3 separate regions of the Homo sapiens genome follow, and all the other regions are linked to region 2. The links come from fine-mapping of genetic effects on gene expression. A gene starts in region 2. Each other region holds a variant in brackets. All regions are shown on one strand. Distances are between the middles of the regions.

Region 1 (2,768 bases), 25 kb before region 2:
CAAAGTGTCCAACCCATAGGTGCCCATTAAATGTTTGTGTATCTGATACATCTTAAAATTTATTTTAAAGCCCTCTGAGTCCAAAAATAACCTTTTCACTGGCAAGGCCATGGGGCCCCAAATCCAGGAAACCTGCATTTTTAACCCAGCTTTACCCTTATAGGCTGTATCATACTGTGGAAACCACTTCACATCTTTGGCTTTCAGTCTTCATCTGTACAATGAAGTGGTTGGGCTAGTTGATCTAATTCTTTGAATGGTGACTTCCTGGAGTTGGAACTGGTTTCCATGGTGAAGTTAATGTAAGAGCTGCAGTTGAGTGCAGTTGTCAAGCAATTTTTAAAATGGGTTTTGGTCATTACTGCAGGAATTTGCTTTTTAAAAAAGCTGTTGACATTGGGGGTCACAAGTCAAGATGTTGAAACTTGATGATATCCTGCATACATATATTCAAAAGCAAAGTCCAACATACAGGCATATCATCCCCAACCAGCTACATACATGTAGCTGTTTTTACACTAGTCTGTAATCAGATCTGAGAATGTGTCTTTATGTTAAAAAAAAAAAATCTGTCTACTGGCAGTTTTCTCCACACACAACGTATAAACACACACGTAATTCATTACATTCCCAAGCTCTCTAAGAATCCTCTGATCCTGAATCAGAACATTTTAGCTAAAGCATTCTGCAAATTCCTTAATTTCACGGTTCCTAGAGTTTATTTCGAGTATGAATTCTCTGGTGTTTAGTAAGAGCTGAACTTCGGCTGAAGTTTTTCCCACATTCCTTACAAGAATAGGGTTTTTCTCCAGTATGAATTCTCTGATGATCATGCAGGTTGGTTTTTTTTCGGAAGGCTCTCCCACATTCATTACATTCATAGGGCTTCTCTCCAGTATGAGTTCTCTCATGCTGAATGAGAGATGAACTTTGACTAAAGGCTTTCCCACAGTCAATACATTCATAGGGTTTCTCTCCAGTGTGGGTTCTCTCATGTTGAGTAAGCGATGAGCGTCGACTAAAGGCTTCTCCACACTCATTACATTCATAGGGTTTCTCTCCAGTATGAATTCTGTGATGCTCTATGAAACTTGTACTCCTTTTGAAAGCTTTCCCACATACATTACATTGATAGGGTTTCTCTCCAGGATGAGAAATAGCTTGCTGACTAAAAGCCTGCTCACAATCATAGGGGTTCTCTGCAGTATGGATCCTCTGATGGTCAGTAAAGTCTGTAATGTGACTAAAGTCTTCCCCACAGTCATTACAATGGTAGGATTTCACTTCGGTAAGAGTGCTTTCATC[T/C]TGAGTGAGAGATGTGCTGTGCTTGAAATCTATGCTGTAGTTACTGCTTTGGTAAGGTTTGCCTCTCTTATGAATCCTCATATGTTTATAAAGGGATGGGCTCTGACCAAAAGCCCTCCCACATATGCTACATTCAAAAGGTTTCTCTCCAGTATGAGTCCTCTCATGTTGGACAAGGGAAGAACATCGACTAAAGGCTTTCCCACATTCCTTACACTGGAAGGGCTTCTCTCCACTGTGTGTGACCTCGTGTTGAGTGAGGGATGTGCCATGCCTAAAGGACCTCCCACATAGATTACATCGATAGGGTTTCTCTCCAGTGTGAATTCGCTGGTGTTGAACAAGGGAGGAGCTGCGCTGGAAGGCTTTCCCACAGAGACTACACTGATAGGGTTTCTCTCCGGTATGAGCATTCTCATGCTGACCAAGAGATGAGCTATGCCTGAAGGCCTTTCCACATACATTGCATTCAAAGGGTTTCTCCCCAGTGTGAATTCTCTGATGCTCAGTAAGCTGTGTCTTCCAGAGAAAGGTTTTCCCACAGTCGGTACATTCATGGTGTTTCTTTCCAGGATAAATTCCTTGATCTGTTCCATTAGGGAAAGCTCCCTCTCCTTTATGTGTTTTCTCATGTTTAGTAAGCGATGATCTATGAATAAAGGCTTTTCTACATTTATCACACTTATAGGGTTTCTTTTTTGCAAGAATATTATTCTCATTAAGTAAGTCTGCATTATGTCCCAAATTGCTTCCAAGGGTCTCACATTCACTAGGCCTTATTCTTGCAGGAATGTTCAGTTGTGTAACCAAATTGGTGTTCAATCTAGAATTTTCACCAAATTTATTTTGCTCAAAATTTTCTTGTGGTGTAATTATTTTCTTCTGGGTGGATGCCTCTGATCCCAGATGTCTCTTCCAGTTTTCCTGTTGCCTGTCTAACTGGCTGCTAACATCCCAGGAGTCTTCTAATGTAGCATGTAAGAGATCATGTGTGCAGTGGGATACTTCTGATACATCCTGCTGCAAATGTGATGATTTGACTTCAGGCCTGGTCTTCCAGTCTGAAAGAAATCCAAAGTACAAAAGTCCCCTATTCCTTCCTGTTGAAATACACTGCTAGAGTAGGAATGAAGAAAGACATATAAGTTACATATGACTCTGTTTTGAAATTACTCCTGTATCCTGAGAAGACGACCCAAAATGGAGAAAAGGAAAAGTGAAGAAATGATAGCAAAGACTGCAGATTCAGAGTATGTGGTAAGTCCAGAGAATGAGGAAAGCCCATCTAGGAGGGTTGGTTAGAAAATAAGGAAATAAGTGAGCAGGACTGTGTTAGGCACAGATACAAATGGAACAGGATCACAGCCCATCTTAGGATCCTATATGCTCTCCATGCCTCCTATCCTTTTATAAACCACCACAAAATCTGTCTTCCTAATATATCCATTTCATAATTTCTTTAC
Region 2 (2,768 bases):
CTAAAGAGAATGTAGATTCAAAGATACAGATACCATCTGGATCTTGATGTATTTTCACCAATATGTAAATCAATGGATAACCTTAGAGTTGTGACGCTTCTAGAAAATGCCCCCTCTGCCACAAGAATAAATGGGTTCACGAATCAGCCTCACATTAAGGTGAAGGCTGGACTTCTGGCGGTGGGGAGTGAGTTGCTCTATTACATTTTTGTTAAAGCAGAAAAGGACAGACACAAAAAGCTCTGGGAGAATCAGCCCTGGTTTTATTTTTGGTTGTTTTTTATTTTGTTTTGTTTTTGCCTCCTTGCCCAAGAAAGCCCATCTCCAGCCTCTTCCTAGACATGTTCTAACCAGGCTTCTACGGCCCCTTACGGACTCTCTATGGGCCCTGGGTCAGAAGCTGGGGCTCCTCTCTCCACACTTGCCGACAGTCACTTCCTCCTCTACAGTGTTCCATCCTGTGACCCCACTCTCTCCATTTCTTATTGACAAGAGTTCAAAAAACTGGCGTGGCATTCAGGACTCTCAAAACTGACACTTCCCAACGCATCCAATCTCAACTCCTCCCACAAGATCGCACCACACTGGCCCTCTCTACCCCACAGAGCAGCCTCCCCTTTGGGAATCCAGCTCCCCAAAGCCTGGGGTTTTCCATGGCCAGGAGGCTCCGATCGAGCCAAGCAAGTAAGGGAGTCGCCAGGCAGAGAACAATGACTGCTCCAAACACCCTTGGGAGATGGGATGGATAGATGGATGGGATGCCCAGGAGGTTAGGAACGCGTTGCTCACCTGGGGCGCGGCGGTCGGAGGCCTCGGGGCCATTCCTGCCTCGCCAGGGCCCGGCTCCGGGGCAGGAGCTGGGGAGAAAGGACAGGGCCCACTCACCCCGCTGCAACACCGACCCCACCCCGCCCCGCCCCGCCCCACCTCCGCCCCTAAACCACATCTCCAGGGGAGATGGTGGCGAGGACCGTGGAACCAGCCCGGGCCTGCCGCTCCCCATCCCCGAAATGAAAGGCTCAGCGGCCTCCCGGACACCCCCCTCCGGCCACGCCCAGTCCCCTTCGCAGGGTGGTGGGCGAGGCCCGGCTGACACCCGCCAAACCCAGGAGGGGTCCCGCCCAGACCCGCGCACTCAGAATCACCGCCTCTGGGGGGCTCCGGATTTCGCGACCTCCGGCCCACCCAGAGCCTCGGGCAGCTCCTCCCGCCCCCGCCGAAGCCTCGGTTATCTCCAATTCTGATCTGCGGAGGGGCTGCCCAAAGGGGCCTCAGCCGCACCGGGGTCGGACAATGGCCGCAGCGGTGGGGCAGAACTGGAAGTGCGCCTGCGCACTCGGAGCCTCGCTCCTGCAACCCCGGGTCCACGCCGGGCGCGCGAACTACACTTCCCAGAGGCCCGCGCGCGCAGGCCCCGCCTAGGCGGCTTCCGAAGGCGCGTTAGGGACCCTTGCGAGGGCCGAGGGAGGCGGCCAGTGTGGCTCGAGTGTGCGTGTCCCTGTATTCCAGTCACTGTCCGCCTCCTCTTTGCAAGGGGCTTGTTGCTAGCTGGGGAATCGGCCGGGAAAGACCCTGGTTTCGGGGAGCAATCGTACGCCCCTTTCGACGAGGCTGACGATAAAAACGCAAACATGTCAACAAGATAATGTCAGGTCCTGACTTCAGCGGTAAGAGTGACACAGGAAGGGAGTGAGACAGCGTCAGAGGGTGGGGCATTTACATCTTCTTCAAAAGGCAATTTTCCATTTCTCATTTTAGAGAAAAAAGAAACTTCGGACAAATCCGTGGCCTCCTGAGCAATGTGCAAAGGCAGATCTACTGCCGTGTTATTTCATTACTTCGTATCCCCTTACGCAGGATTTTGTTTGGGACAAGCAAACAATGATGGAAATTTTCTTTTTTTTTTTTGAGACACAGTTTCGCTCTTGTTGCCTAGGTTGGAGTGCAATGGCGCGATTTTGGCTCACCGCAGCCTCCGCCTCCTGGGTTCAAGCGATTCTCCCGCCTCAGCCTCCCGAGTAGCTGGGATTACAGGCATGCGATGCGTCACCAGGCCCGTCTAATTTTGTATATTTAGTAGAGACAGGTTTTCTCCATGTTGGTCATGCTGGTCTCGAACTCGCCTCGGCCTCCCAAAGTGCTGGGATTACAGGCATGGGCAACCGCGCCCGGCCCGATGGAAATTTTCAACACAAAGATAGGTCAACTTTTAGATACAGCTATTACGTTTATGTAATTATGTCTTATATATCACAGACATTCAGGCTACATTTCCTAGATTTCAGCTTGATTTCTTAACATTAGAGCATTGCATACCAACATGGTAGAAAATGACTGCAACGAAATGTTCCTGATGTCACACTGCTTTATCAAAAATATGAACATTCAAAAATAAATGCTTTATGCCGGGTGCGGTGGCTCAAGCCTGTGATCCCAGCACTTTGGGAGGCTGAGGCTGGCGGATCACCTGAGGTCAGGAGTTCGAGACCAGCCTGACCAACATGGAGATAGCTCGTCTCTACTAAAAATACAAAATTAGCCAGGCTTGGTGGCGCATGCCTGTAATCCCAGCTACTCAGAAAGCTGAGGCAGGAGAATCGCTTGAATCTGGGAGGCAGAGGTTGTGGTGAGCCGAGATTGCACCATTGCACTCCAACCTGGGCAACAACAGCAAAACTCCATCTCAAAAAAAACAAAACAAAAAAGGGAGAAAATTTCCATCACTGTTGGCTTGTCCCAAACACAAAATCCTGCGCAAGGGGCTAACA
Region 3 (2,768 bases), 47 kb before region 2:
CAAAATAAAAGGATGGAGGAAGATCTACCAAGCCAATGGAAAACAAAAAAAGGCAGGGGTTGCAATCCTAGTCTCTGATAAAACAGACTTTAAACCAACAAAGATCAAAAGAGACAAAGAAGGCCATTACATAATGGTAAAGGGATCAATTCAACAAGAGGAGCTAACTATCCTAAATATTTATGCACCCAATACAGGAGCACCCAGATTCATAAAGCAAGTCCTGAGTGACCTACAAAGAGACTTAGACTCCCACACATTAATAATGGGAGACTTTAACACCCCACTGTCAACATTAGACAGATCAACGAGACAGAAAGTCAACAAGGATACCCAGGAATTGAACTCAGCTCTGCACCAAGCAGACCTAATAGACATCTACAGAACTCTCCACCCCTAATCAACAGAATATACATTTTTTTCAGCACCACACCACACCTATTCCAAAATTGACCACATAGTTGGAAGTAAAGCTCTCCTCAGCAAATGTAAAAGAACAGAAATTATAACAAACTATCTCTCAGACCACAGTGCAATCAAACTAGAACTCAGGATTAAGAATCTCACTCAAAGCCGCTCAACTACATGGAAACTGAACAACCTGCTCCTGAATGACTACTGGGTACATAACGAAATGAAGGCAGAAATAAAGATGTTCTTTGAAACCAACGAGAACAAAGACACAACATGCCAGAATCTCTGGGACGCATTCAAAGCAGTGTGTAGAGGGAAATTTATAGCACTAAATGCCTACAAGAGAAAGCAGGAAAGATCCAAAATTGACACCCTAACATCACAATTAAAAGAACTAGAAAAGCAAGAGCAAACACATTCAAAAGCTAGCAGAAGGCAAGAAATAACTAAAATCAGAGCAGAACTGAAGGAAATAGAGACACAAAAAACCCTTCAAAAAATCAATGAATCCAGGAGCTGGTTTTTTGAAAGGATCAACAAAATTGATAGACCGCTAGCAAGACTAATAAAGAAAAAAAGAGAGAAGAATCAAATAGACACAATAAAAAATGATAAAGGGGATATCACAGATATCCCACAGAAATACAAACTACCATCAGAGAATACTACAAACACCTCTACGCAAATAAACTAGAAAATCTAGAAGAAATGGATACATTCCTCGACACATACACTCTCCCAAGACTAAACCAGGAAGAAG[T/C]TGAATCTCTGAATAGACCAATAACAGTCTCTGAAATTGTGGCAATAATCAATAGTTTACCAACCAAAAAGAGTCCAGGACCAGATGGATTCACAGCCGAATTCTACCAGAGGTACAAGGAGGAACTGGTACCATTCCTTCTGAAACTATTCCAATCAATAGAAAAAGAGGGAATCCTCCCTAACTCATTTTATGAGGCCAGCATCATTCTGATACCAAAGCCGGGCAGAGACACAACCAAAAAAGAGAATTTTAGACCAATATCCTTGATGAACATTGATGCAAAAATCCTCAATAAAATACTGGCAAACCGAATCCAGCAGCACATCAAAAAGCTTATCCACCATGATCAAGTGGGCGTCATCCCTGGGATGCAAGGCTGGTTCAATATACGCAAATCAATAAATGTAATCCAGCATATAAACAGAGCCAAAGACAAAAACCACATGATTATCTCAATAGATGCAGAAAAAGCCTTTGACAAAATTCAACAACCCTTCATGCTAAAAACTCTCAATAAATTAGGTATTGATGGGACGTATTTCAAAATAATAAGAGCTATCTATGACAAACCCACAGCCAATATCATACTGAATGGGCAAAAACTGGAAGCATTCCCTTTGAAAACTGGCACAAGACAGGGATGCCCTCTCTCACCGCTCCTATTCAACATAGTGTTGGAAGTTCTGGCCAGGGCAATCAGGCAGGAGAAGGAAATAAAGGGTATTCAATTAGGAAAAGAGGAAGTCAAATTGTCCGTTTGCAGACGACATGATTGTTTATCTAGAAAACCCCATCGTCTCAGCCCAAAATCTCCTTAAGCTGATAAGCAACTTCAGCAAAGTCTCAGGATACAAAATCAATGTACAAAAATCACAAGCATTCTTATACACCAACAACAGACAAACAGAGAGCCAAATCATGAGTGAACTCCCATTCACAATTGCTTCAAAGAGAATAAAATACCTAGGAATCCAACTTACAAGGGATGTGAAGGACCTCTTCAAGGAGAACTACAAACCACTGCTCAAGGAAATAAAAGAGGACACAAACAAATGGAAGAACATTCCATGCTCATGGGTAGGAAGAATCAATATCGTGAAAATGGCCATACTCCCCAAGGTAATTTACAGATTCAATGCCATCCCCATCAAGCTACCAATGACTTTCTTCACAGAATTGGAAAAAACTACTTTAAAGTTCATATGGAACCAAAAAAGAGCCCGCATCGCCAAGTCAATCCTAAGCCAAAAGAACAAAGCTGGAGGCATCACACTACCTGACTTCAAACTATACTACAAGGCTACAGTAACCAAAACAGCATGGTACTGGTACCAAAACAGAGATATAGATCAATGGAACAGAACAGAGCCCTCAGAAATAATGCCACATATCTACAACTATCTGATCTTTGACAAACCTGAGAAAAACAAGCAATGGGGAAAGGATTCCCTATTTAATAAATGGTGCTGGGAAAACTGGGTCGCCATATGTAGAAAGCTGAAACTGGATCCCTTCCTTACACCTTATACAAAAATCAATTCAAGATGGATTAAAGATTTAAATGTTAGACCTAAAACCATAAAAACCCTAG

Direction of the effects. Alleles are on the strand shown, and positions count from the first base shown. SD is a standard deviation of normalised expression in the study named. Not every link is listed here.
As copies of T replace C in region 3, the expression in lymphoblastoid cells of the gene that starts at base 1,324 in region 2 goes down (moderate effect, 0.69 SD a copy in TwinsUK).

Evidence for each region. PIP is the estimated chance that this variant, and not a neighbour inherited with it, causes the effect. A credible set is the group of variants that fine-mapping cannot tell apart.
Region 1: its variant is the best candidate, but not a certain one, in a credible set for the expression of ZFP90 in nucleus accumbens (GTEx, PIP 0.51).
Region 3: its variant is the best candidate, but not a certain one, in a credible set for the expression of ZFP90 in lymphoblastoid cells (TwinsUK, PIP 0.63).

The regions. Positions count from the first base shown.
Region 1 is chr16:68,562,642-68,565,409 of GRCh38, reverse strand. ZFP90 (ZFP90 zinc finger protein) reads right to left here. Exons shown (of 5, transcript NM_001305203.2): 5 at 1-2,366. The coding sequence ends at 712. Among named protein-coding and RNA genes, the nearest start is that of ZFP90, 25 kb to the right of the region's middle. The variant T/C (reference allele first, on the strand shown) is at 1,306.
Region 2 is chr16:68,537,847-68,540,614 of GRCh38, reverse strand. ZFP90 (ZFP90 zinc finger protein) reads right to left here and starts at 1,324. Exons shown (of 5, transcript NM_001305203.2): 1 at 1,136-1,324; 2 at 790-857. The coding sequence starts at 822.
Region 3 is chr16:68,584,591-68,587,358 of GRCh38, reverse strand. No RefSeq gene overlaps it. Among named protein-coding and RNA genes, the nearest start is that of ZFP90, 47 kb to the right of the region's middle. The variant T/C (reference allele first, on the strand shown) is at 1,175.